Linked DNA regions of Homo sapiens: region 2 is reported to be linked to region 1. Evidence: microRNA targets listed by miRTarBase, many of them from high-throughput screens and not tested one by one. Region 1 holds a microRNA gene; the other region holds the end of a gene's coding sequence.
Evidence for each region. The annotated mature microRNA hsa-miR-6773-3p reads ACUGUCACUUCUCUGCCCAUAG and lies in region 1 at 3,168-3,189, opposite strand. An mRNA with a match to its seed (bases 2 to 7 or 8) in the 3' UTR can be bound and repressed. Matches are read on the target gene's strand: a 7mer-m8 pairs with bases 2 to 8, a 7mer-A1 pairs with bases 2 to 7 and ends in A, and an 8mer does both.

Region 2: miRTarBase lists LDB1 as a target of hsa-miR-6773-3p. Seed matches in the 3' UTR shown: 8mer at 1,459-1,466.

What each region holds. Positions count from the first base shown.
Region 1 is chr16:68,230,259-68,235,626 of GRCh38, forward strand. It overlaps MIR6773 (microRNA 6773), which reads right to left and starts at 3,241; the gene lies at 3,168-3,241. ESRP2 (epithelial splicing regulatory protein 2) reads right to left here. Exons shown (of 15, transcript NM_024939.3): 3 at 3,736-3,849; 4 at 3,510-3,624; 5 at 3,069-3,167; 6 at 2,503-2,557; 7 at 2,319-2,429; 8 at 2,113-2,245; 9 at 1,988-2,030; 10 at 1,544-1,845; 11 at 1,224-1,436; 12 at 920-1,118; 13 at 583-769; 14 at 131-296; 15 at 1-57.
Region 2 is chr10:102,103,409-102,108,776 of GRCh38, reverse strand. It overlaps LDB1 (LIM domain binding 1), which reads left to right. Exons shown (of 11, transcript NM_001113407.3): 11 at 454-2,288. The coding sequence ends at 684. Among named protein-coding and RNA genes, the nearest start is that of LDB1, 14 kb to the left of the region's middle. RefSeq lists an enhancer at 756-1,257.

The sequences.
Region 1 (5,368 bases):
CACAGTGCGAGGTGGGTCACCAACAGGCATCAGACTGGTGTAGTCATCAGCGGGTAGCTACAGAAGGGACACAGATTTAGGGCAGAGAGCTCAGCCAGACCCGCCAGGCCCTCCGGCCACACAATCTCACCTGGTAGGCCTGGAAGACGCTGAGCAGATCCTTCATACCAGCCGTGTATGGGACACCCTGCATGCGGACCAAGGCTCCTGACTGGGACAACACTGAGGTGGGAGCAGAGGCCAGGGCAGCAGTGGGTGTAGTGAGGTAGCCCACAGTGGTGGGGGAGACTGGGGGGCTAGGGTGGGAGAGACAAGGTTTAGTCATGCATGCCACCTGTGGCCTAGACCGAGACCTGTTTCCCTCCTCCCTTGTTTCTGCCTTGTGCTTAATTCAGTTCCTCCCTGAAGCCCCAGCCTCTACAGAGTCATTTTCGATCTGTTTTGTAGATGGCATTAGCCAGCTGCCACCTTACTCCCTTGTCATCTCAAGGGAGGAGTTATCTGGTCCAGAAAGGGGATCGTGACCTTTCCCCAGATTGGGACAGGGAGTGGGACTGTGATATTCTCTTAGCTGCAGGGTACCTTGGGTAGTAGGCTGTGTAGTTCAGGTAGAGTTGAGTGGCTGGCCCTGGATAGTAGGCAACAGGGGTGGGGGCAGCAGGCACCCTGGCAGCTGGGAGCAGTGCTGAAGAGGGGTATAGAGCTGCCGTCTCCGTGGGAATGAGCGTTGGGGTGGCTTGGAAGGTGGTGTAGGTAGGTGGTGAGAGGCCTAGAGACGGAAGTAGAAAGTGCATGTGCACGGAGCCCAGCACTGCCCTGGGTGGGGTAGCCAGAAAGGAGTCCCCGCTATAGAAGGTAGGGGCTTACAACAGCCTGGCTACCACAGGCCTCCTCCTCCCCTAGCCCCTAGGGCACTCACAGGGCAGCTTGCAGGGTGGAGGGGACATGCCACTGCGGCCCAAGGTGCCCCCCATCAGCACTCGGCTCATCTCCTCTGTGGAACAGGGGACCACCTCCACGTAGCGCTCCTTCATCACCTTCTTATGGCAACGCTGAGCAGCAGCTAGGGCTCGCTCTGCTGATGTCATCTGAATGAAGGCATCGCCCGATGGCCGGCCCTGTGCACACCATCTTGTGAGCAGTTTGTCATGTGTAAGAGTGCCTTACCCCTAACACACACCCCTTCCTATTTATGTGTTCCCCCTACCAAGCAGTGGCTTCACCTGCTGGTTGAGCACCATGTGTACACCGTGGGGCCGAATGTCAGCTGCTGCCTCCCCCAGAAAGCTCAGGATGTCTTCAATGGTGGCCGTGTAGGGCAGGCCTCGGAGGCGTACACAGTCCCTCCCAGTCCCAGGTGCCAGTGGGAAGGGGATGGGCAGCAGTGGGGCAGTCAGTGTAGGAAGGAGTGGGCCGGATGCATAGCGGTTCAAGACCTAGTAAGGAAGGCAGCAACAGGCTGGTCATGCCAAGTAGGGCAGGGACACAGAGGGCCGCCCTGGAGTAACAGTACATCTGGGGGTGGGGAGCCCTGGGCGCTCACCTGCTGCACTTCGGCTGCAGTGCTCCGGAAGAGTTCAATGTATCGCTTACCCAGCATGCCCTTGTGCCTGCGCAGTGCAGCCTGTGCCAGCTCCTCACAAGCAAAGAGGGCGAAGGCATCACCAGTCGGCCGGCCATCAGGATGGCGCACAAAGAGCAGCCCCTCGGTACCCCCAGTCACTGGGCACTCTGGCCCCAGGAAGCCAAGCACGTCCGTTGGCCCAGCCGAGAAGGGCAGTCCCCGCAGCCGCAGGATCACTTGGTCTTCCCGTGACAAGAAACGAGCCACCTCTAGTGATGTGCCTGTGTATGAGAGTCGCCTGCTGACTTCACTCATGCTCCTCCAGACACTCACCCATGCAGGGGAGCAGGCAGGCAAGGGGTGGTGGGGAAGTGAAATGGATCAAGAACCAGGGGAGCCAGGCCCTGTTTGCAGTATACTCACCCCCTGCAATCTTTACAAACTCCTCCCCTGTCGCTTTATACACCTGTGGGTACAGAGAGCAGCAGCCCATGGGTCTCAGGCCTGACTCAGATTGGCCCTGCTCCGCTCCCAGCCCAAAGCCCCACCTCAATATAGCGGACGCCCATGTGGTGCTTGTGTCTCTGCAGCGCTAGGTCCCGCTGCTCGCTGTCCACAAAGCGGATGAGGGCCTCGCCATTTCTGCGGCCCTGGGCGTTGAGGCAGAGTGCTACACCACCCCTGTGGAGCCAGTGCTGTTAGTGCCTCCTGGGTAGGCCTGTCCAATTGGGCCCACCCACCCTGCCACACCCACCTGGCCACGTTGAGCCCTTTGAAGAAGCGAGCCACGTCCTGGTCTGATGACTGCCACGGCAACCCACGAGCCCGTACCACAGTCTCACTGTCCACCACATCAGCCTTGCTGCTGTAGGGGCAGGGCACAGTGCTGTCAGAGCTATTCAGCTGTTGTCACCCCCAGCCCCTGCTCCCACACTCACCAAGGCCCCGTCTCGTATTTCTGCTTTATCACCTCGGGCTTCGAAAACAATTGACCTGAGAAAAGATGGCCTGGGGGTCAGCAGGGTCTGGTGGAGAGGGGTGTCCCCACCAAGTTCTGCAAAAAGTGGACAATTGAGAGAGATGAAGAAATGACAGGCCGAGCACAGTGGCTCACGCCTATAATCCCAGCACTTTGGGAGGCCAAGGTGGGTGGATCATTTGAGGTCAGGAGTTCCAGACCAGCCTGGCCAACATGGTGAAACCCCATCTCTACTAAAAATACAAAAATTAGGTGGGCATGGTGGCAGGCGCCTATAATCCCAGCTACTCTGGAGGCTTAGACAGGAGAATCGCTTGAACCCGGAAAGTGGAGGTTGCAGTGAGCTGAGATTGTGCCACTGCACTCTAGCCTAGGCTACAGAGGGAGACTGTCTCAAAAAAAAAAAAAAAAAAGAAATGACAAAGAGGATTCCCCCGTGGTCTCTTAGAGAAGGTCACAGTGGGGAGGAGCAATAGGCATTTGTCATCCCTGAGAACAGGTGACAGGCAGTGAGGGAAACCTTACTGCTGGGCTCTTTGAGTAGATGGAGGATAACAGCTACCATTGTCTTGACTTCCCAGACCCCAAAGTCATCCTCTGTGGCATCTGTCTCCAGTCCTAAACCTATGGGCAGAGAAGTGACAGTGAAGACATCTTAGCATAAGCACTAATCCTGTTTACTCCTGGGCCCAACTCCCCTCCATAGACACATGCTGGAGACCAGCATACACATTTGTTTTGGCCCAGTTCATGTGTGCACATACAGATTCCCAGTCCAGACATAGACAGACACATACCCACATTCCAAACTCATCCTAGCACAGACACGAAGACACAGTACACTCAGGGACTTAGCAGATAACGCAGTCTTGTATGTGTCCATATTACCCACCCACAGCATGCACATACTCAGACACATGTACCCACAGTGGCTTCTCCACCCTAACCCTGCTGGGTCACAGATACCCTGTGCCATGGTGGCCACAGTGAGGTCCCTGGCAGGGCAGGTGCTTGGATGCTGCATATGGAATTCTCTTCGGAGGTCATAGAAGGAGAAGAACATGTCGGGGAGCACCAGGTTCTGGGGGCACATAGGATTGAGGATGAGCGCCCTGCCCACCCTCAGGACAAGAGGGGTTCTGGGAACCTTACTGACCACCCCACCCCACCCGGTTTTCCTTCAGGAGCATACCTTCCTGGAGGCCTCGGGGTGCAGGACCTGTCGCAATAGCTGCTGCCCATCAGTGCAGAGCATGTAGGGGCCCCCGCCCAGCAAAGCCACATCCCCGTTCACCAGCTGTGAGAACTGGGGATAGGGAATGGGGAGAGAGAAACACACAGATTCACAGCTGGGCAGGCAGGAAGTGAGGGTAGGAGGAAGGAGGCAGGCTGCAAAGCTGGTTCAGCCAGATGTTCAGCCCTATCCTGCCTGGGAATAAGAGGCCACGCCTGTTGAGCCTAGCCCTATGTCCCTTCCCCTCACCCCCCAACCCTGTTCCAGTCCACTGTCACCTCCTCCAGGCCAAATGAGGGCAATCACATATAACCGAAGCCCTCAACACACACACTCCAGGAGTTTGGAGTGGGGCCAGAGCAAACACCTGGAGTGGGACAAGCAGGTGGGAAGGGGCGGGGCAAAGCAGGTTAAACCTGTCTTTGACCGGGTACCACCCTCAGACAGGTGGGGGAGGCCCAGGCCTGCCTGAGGCCCAGAAGGCTCATGGTCAATGGCAGCCCCGCCTCCAGGTCTGACCAACCGAGGGGCAGAGAAACTCCAAGGACAGAGCTCCACACTTGGACATCAGGGGCAGCATGAGCTTTGACCCACATCCTATTGACCGGCTGGCACTGAGCTGTTTGCTCATAGAGGGGGTGGCACTCCTGAGGCTGCCCAGCCCTCCCCCAGCCTCCATCCTTGCTGGAGAAGTATAAACACTAATCAGTGACCCACGAACCCTCCCTGCCAATTCTGTGACACTTTACAACTTGGGGCTGACAGAGCAAGGCAACCCAGCTCTCCTCCAGCAAACTCCCCAAGTGAAGGGCCGGGAGCCCTTCTGGAACAGACAAGGAATCATCATCGTGGTGCCTCCTCATCAGGAACCACAAGAGTTGTTGGAAGATGAAAGAACGTGAGTGTATAAAAAGGACTTACACTAATTACACTCAAGAGTCAGACATAGAATGAGCGCCGTAGTGAAGATAAGGAAAAGAAAACAGCAATGGAAACCACCTCCCACTTCAGCTAGGGCAGGAGGCACCCCAGGCCTTTGCACTCAGCAGGCAGATAGTCCCCCAGGCCAGGCCGGGACAGCGCCCACGCCTGGCCAGCCGGCCGGGACAGGCCTAGACGAGCAGTTTACACCTGGCGGCGTCTACCTCTAGGGCCGACACCGCCCTACGCCTCCGCTCCAGCAGCTCCCAAGCAGGCCGAAGACGCGGGCCGCAAGGACAGGTGACCTATATGGGCCCCTCGACCCCTTTCGCTTCCGGCTGCGGCTCAGGGAGACCTGACCCAGCAGGTCTCCCAAAGGCGTCTCGGCCTCGCTCCCCGGGCGGGAACTGGGGATGGATCCCAAAGCCTGCGTCCCGATCCCTTCGGTAGGAGTAGGTTCCTGCAATGGTTGAAAAGTAAGGAGCCCAGGGGAATGGCTGGCACGCGCGGATGAAAGGGGCACGCACACGCGAGAGTCGCTCAAAGTTTCAAACAAGAGCCCAGTCCTGCCGCCTGGACCGGTTGGTTGCGGCACGCCAGGCCTAGCCTCCGGCCGCCAATCCCGCCCAGAAATGTCCTCACGTCCAGGCCATGCCGCCACCCACCCCGG
Region 2 (5,368 bases), not on the chromosome of region 1:
CAGGACAGACAGCTTGGGGCTCACAGACCATCCAGCACACACACTCACACTGATAGACATGCAGACTGGAGTGTTTGCAGATCCAGAATACATACCCTTGCACATGCACACACTGCCCTCCCTCATGTTTTTGATATGCTCCCTTTCTTACATGTGGACAGAAGTTGAGGAGTCCCCTAAAATTTTGGGGAGATGGGCTAGGGAGCTAGGGGAGTAGAGTGACTTCTAGAATGTAATGGATATGGGCTAAAGGCTTTGATGCTCTGGTGTTCTTCAGTAGGAAGGATTCCAGGAGCTGAGGGTGTCAGGAGTTGGGGTTTTAAATTCGGGTATGAGGAGGGGGTGGGGACTCTTGAGCTTCCAGGGTGGGTACTGGGGCTCTGGGGGTATCTGCCGCCCTGGGCCGGGCGAGCCCTTGCCCCGATTATGTTTGGGGACCTCCGCCACTCTCAGGATGTGATGGTGGTGGGGGAGCCCACCCTGATGGGCGGGGAGTTCGGGGACGAGGACGAGAGGCTCATCACCCGGCTGGAGAACACCCAGTTTGACGCAGCCAACGGCATTGACGACGAGGACAGCTTTAACAACTCCCCTGCACTGGGCGCCAACAGCCCCTGGAACAGCAAGCCTCCGTCCAGCCAAGAAAGCAAATCGGAGAACCCCACGTCACAGGCCTCCCAGTAAAAGGCCCTGCTGTGGCCACCCAGTGCTCTGCCTACCTGCCCCACCCCTCACAGCCCCAGGGAGCAGAAGACAGAATGAAGAGACTGAGCATCTAAAATGGGCAGCCTCCATCCACCCGCTTCAGGGAGGAACTGGACTCTCTGGGGGCAGGTGCCAAGATTTGCCCCCCCAGTGGCCCTGGGCTGGGCCTGGCCTCTACAGAGCCTTTTAGGGGGAGGGGGTACTCATGTGGATGCCTACTTGGAACCTGGGCCTCTGAGACATGTCCTGACCACCCCCCAGGGCATTTGCCTCCATCTTCACCCCAGATTGTGGGTTTCCCATCCCCCTGACTTTACCCCTTTCAAGCCTGGGGTTGTCTATACCCACAGCCCTTAGGGACTTAAAGTTACGGGGCTTCGTTGAATGCTCCTTCCCCTAGGCAGCTGGTAATAGAGGGGTAAAGCTCTGGGCCCCTCCTCCCTGCTGCCACTTATCCCAGCTCCAAGTTTTTTTAAAAATAATATTATTAAAAATGTAAGTTAAAAAAAAAATCACTCATGTCCCCCCCTCTTCCCCCTATTAAAAGTCCAGCTACCTCCCTACTCTTGGCAGATGGGGGCCTAGGGCCTAGGTGGGGGTGAGAGTGGGGGAGGGAGGTGTGCATACCATTTTATATGGTGTGAGAGCTTCAGACCAAGGAGACATTTCACCATCTCTCCCCCTTTCCTCTGGGGTGACTGCAGTTGAGGAAAGCATGCCATGGGGTAGGGGGACATTGGTGGCCACATTTTGGTGACAGACCCCTGCTGTTGTCTCTGTGTCCCCATTCTCTGGACTCTGGCCTGCCCTCCTAGTGCTTGTGACTCCCTCTCTTCCAGCCCCACCCCCATGGTATGTATATTCCTTACAAGTCCTCCACAAGAGCAGCTGTCTAGGATGCGGGGAGGGGAGGCTCCTTCCCTTAGGGAGCGTGGAGAGAAGGGAGCAGCCTTGTTGCTGTATTTTTGGTTTTGTTTCAGTTGGGCAGGCATGGGATGGGAGAGGGGCTCAGCCACTTTCCTCCAGAATCTTCCCTCAGCCCCTCCAACTGCATATGTAATCCTACTCTGTCCTTCATAGAGGGGAAGGAGCCACAGATGACATCCCAGTTCTAAGCCCACCAGGGAGGAACAGGCCTCTGTCCCCATAGGTGAGGTAGAGGTAGAGGGTCTTCACCTGCCAGTATCCCCTGCCGCTCCTTCCTCACAGAAGGAAGGAGGAGGAGGCAGCCGGGATCCTCGGCTCTGCCAGGGTGCAGCCAGGAGCAGGGTTTCACGCAGCTGGTCCAGCTCTGTGGCTTTGCTGCCTTTTCCTGTGGCCAGTCCCAGGAAGTGCTAACACCACCTCTCTCCCCACTCTTCCCTCTGGATTCTGGGGTCCCCCACACCGTATTTCCTCCACTCCAGCTGCCACTTTTGGAAGGGTATTGAGTCAGGAGCTGAGGGAAGGGGTGAGGAAGGTGGACATCCCATCCCAACTGTAATGCCTTTTTTTTTTTTTTTTTTTTTTTTTTTTTTTTTTTTTTTTTTTGGGCCATTTGAGTCATGTATGGTACCAATCAATAAAGAGACTTTTCGGTTTGAGAGTGTCCTGGTTGGTCATTGATGCCTAATAATGACTCAGTCCAAGGCAATCTTTTCCCCATCCTTGCAGTTCCTAAGACTATGAATTGGATCCCTTCACTCACCTCACATTTCCCCTCACTCTTGAAGTTGTTTCCCTGAATTACACTTCTCCTTCACCCAAGACCCTAAAGTTTGTTCCCAGATGTCCCAGCTTGGCCCCATCTCCCTCAAAAGTTGAGGGAGAGTTGGCTTTCTCAGTCTGCTCCCCACCTCTCACCCCAGGACTGTTGCTTCTCACCCTTAGCTGTCATGGGGCAGCCAGACAGGTGGCCCTCCTGGGGCAGGTTCCTGGGATAGACTGCCTTGGGTTATGCCGTTGAGGGAGGGGTGGGAGAGGGGACTTGGCCCAGGAGGGGGCTTGGGTTAGATGGTCTTGGGGTACTTAGAGTACCTGGGAGACTCCTACCCCTACCCAGCCCCCAGTCTACTAGCCTGGCTGATGTTGGTTGGTTAGTTGGTTTATTTATTTTGAGATGGAGTCTTGCTCCATTACCCAGGCTGGAGGGCAGTGGCATGATCTGAGGTCACTGCAACCTCCACTTCCTGGGTTCAAGTGATTCTCCTGCCTCAGCCTTCCAAGTAGCTGGGATTACAGGTGCCCACCACTATGCCTGGCTAATTTTTGTATTTTTTTTTTTTTTTTTTTTAGTAGAGATAGGGTTTCACCATGTTGGCCAGGCTGGTTTCAAACTCTTGACCTCAGGTGATCCACCCGCCTTGGCCTCTCAAAGTACTAGGATTATAGGCGTGGTCCACTCTGCCCGGTCAGCAGCTGAGGTCTAAATTAGTCTCCCCTGGTGCTAAGGTCCCTGGGTGGGGGATTAAGAGAGTAGCAGGATTGCTACTCTCCAGACTGGGAAGATATGGAGACCCCGCTGTAGATTGGAGATGGGGTCTTAGTGCCCATAAAGCTCCCTATCCAGTGTCCCTCTTTGTCATCCCAGGCAGGGGAAGCTGAGGCCTCAAACTGTTCCCCTCCTAAGTTCTCCCTGGACCTGAAATAAAGCCCGATAGACTGGCACCTCTACCCTCACCTCCCTAGCTGGTAGGAAGACACCAGAGGAAGGGACTGTATGACCTGTCCAATCTCCAATCTACAGTTATCTTGGCCGTGCCCTGCTGCCAGCCCAGCTTCTCATAACCCAGTGCCTCAGGACCCCAAGGAATGCTATTGCACCCCACCCCCAACTCTTCCTTTGTAGATCTGGCCAGCCTGAAGGACATTTACCAGCCAACTGCCACCAGCAACTCACCCTGAGAGTGCCAGGTAACATCTACAGTGGGTCTGTGTCTGGCACTGAGTGTACATCTAGCCCATTAGCCTGAGTGTGTGTGTATGTATGTGCTGCTGAGCTAGGGAGGGCCTGGATCTGTTTATATGTGCAGGTAAGGGAGTATATACATGTGTTTGTATGTGGGCATGTATATGCATATGTTTATGTATGTGTCTGTTGGTTAATTAATTCATTCAAATATTATTCATTGAGCCCTCTTTAGGTACTAGGCCCATTCTAGGTGCTGGGGATATGATGTTGAACAAAGCAGAGAAGATGTGACTGCTGAGTGTGAGTGAAGGCTATAAATCCGTAAATGAGGGTGTGTTGTTAAATGTGTGGCTTAGCAGTGCGACTGTGTTGAGTTATGGGGCTGCTGGGACAGTGGTTGTGTGACTCGGTTGGGTATTTGTAGGTTCACGTCTTGTATGTATATGTTTGTGTATGGAGGGAGATAGTCAAGGGAAAAGGTAGATTGCCAGGCCTGGACCCCATCCTACTTGGGGGCAGGGGGTAGGTCAGAGAAGCAGGAAAACACACTATTGAACTCAGGAAACACAGTGGCCAGCAACTTCCTCTGGAGCCCCATATCTGGCTCCTCCCCATTTGCCCCCAGGAACCCCTGGTGAAGAGGAATTACTGGGGTGAGGGAAGAGAGAGACCCTCCAAAACCCTCATGCCCTTTGTTTTCAGGTACATATGTGGGCCCAGTCCCAAGCCTTAGCACATTGCTGAAGAGCTTTGTGCTGCTGAGCTAGGGAGGGCCTGGATCTGTTTATATGTGCAGGTAAGGCAGTGTATACGTGTGTTTGTATGTAGGCATGTATACGCATATGTTTACGTATGTGTCTGTTGGTGAATTAATTCATTCGGATAGTCTGACCATGTACCCCAGCCAGGGCTTCTGGATCCACAGAGGTCTGAACCCAACCCCAAACCTCTGTCCCTCCTGGACTCCCAGCTCCTTCCTCATTTTTCCTGACCCGGTCTGATCTGATTCAGCCAGAGAGCTCCATCCCCTTTCCTAGGAACCTACTGTAGTCTGGTGCAACTTCCAACCCCTCTTTTATACCCTTAGCCCAGTCCAGCCTGACTTCTTTTTTTTTTTTTTAAGATAGAGTCTTGCTGTGTCGCCCAGGCTGGAGTGTAGTGGCATGATGTCGTCTCACTGCAACCTCTGCCTCCTAGTTCAAATGATTCTCATGCGTCCCAAGTAGCTGGGACTACAGGCACATGACACCATACCTGGCTAATTTTTTTATTTTTTATTTTTAGTAGCGACGTGGTTTTACCATATCAGGAGTTCAAGACTAGCCTGGGCAATATAGTGAGACCTCATCTCTACTTTTTCTTTTTTAAGAGATGGAATCTTGTTCTGTCGACGAGGCTGGAGTGCAGTGGCATGATCTCGGCTCACTGCAACCTCCGCCTCCTGGGTTCAAGTGATTCTCCTGCCTCAGTCTCCCTAGTAGCTGAGACTACAGGTGCGCACCACCATGCCCAGCTAGTTTTTGTAATTTTAGTAGAGATGGGTTTTCACCATGTCAGCCAGGCTGGTCTTGAACCCTTGACCTTAAGTGATCTGCCTGCCTTGGCTTCCCAAAATGCTGAGATTACAGACCTGAGTCACTCCACCCAACCGAGACCTCATCTCTAAAATAAATAAATAAGCTGAGTGTGGTGGTGCATCTATAGTCCCAGCTACTTGGGAGGCTGAGGTGGGAGAATTACTTGGGCCTGGGAAGTTGAGACAACAGTGAGTTG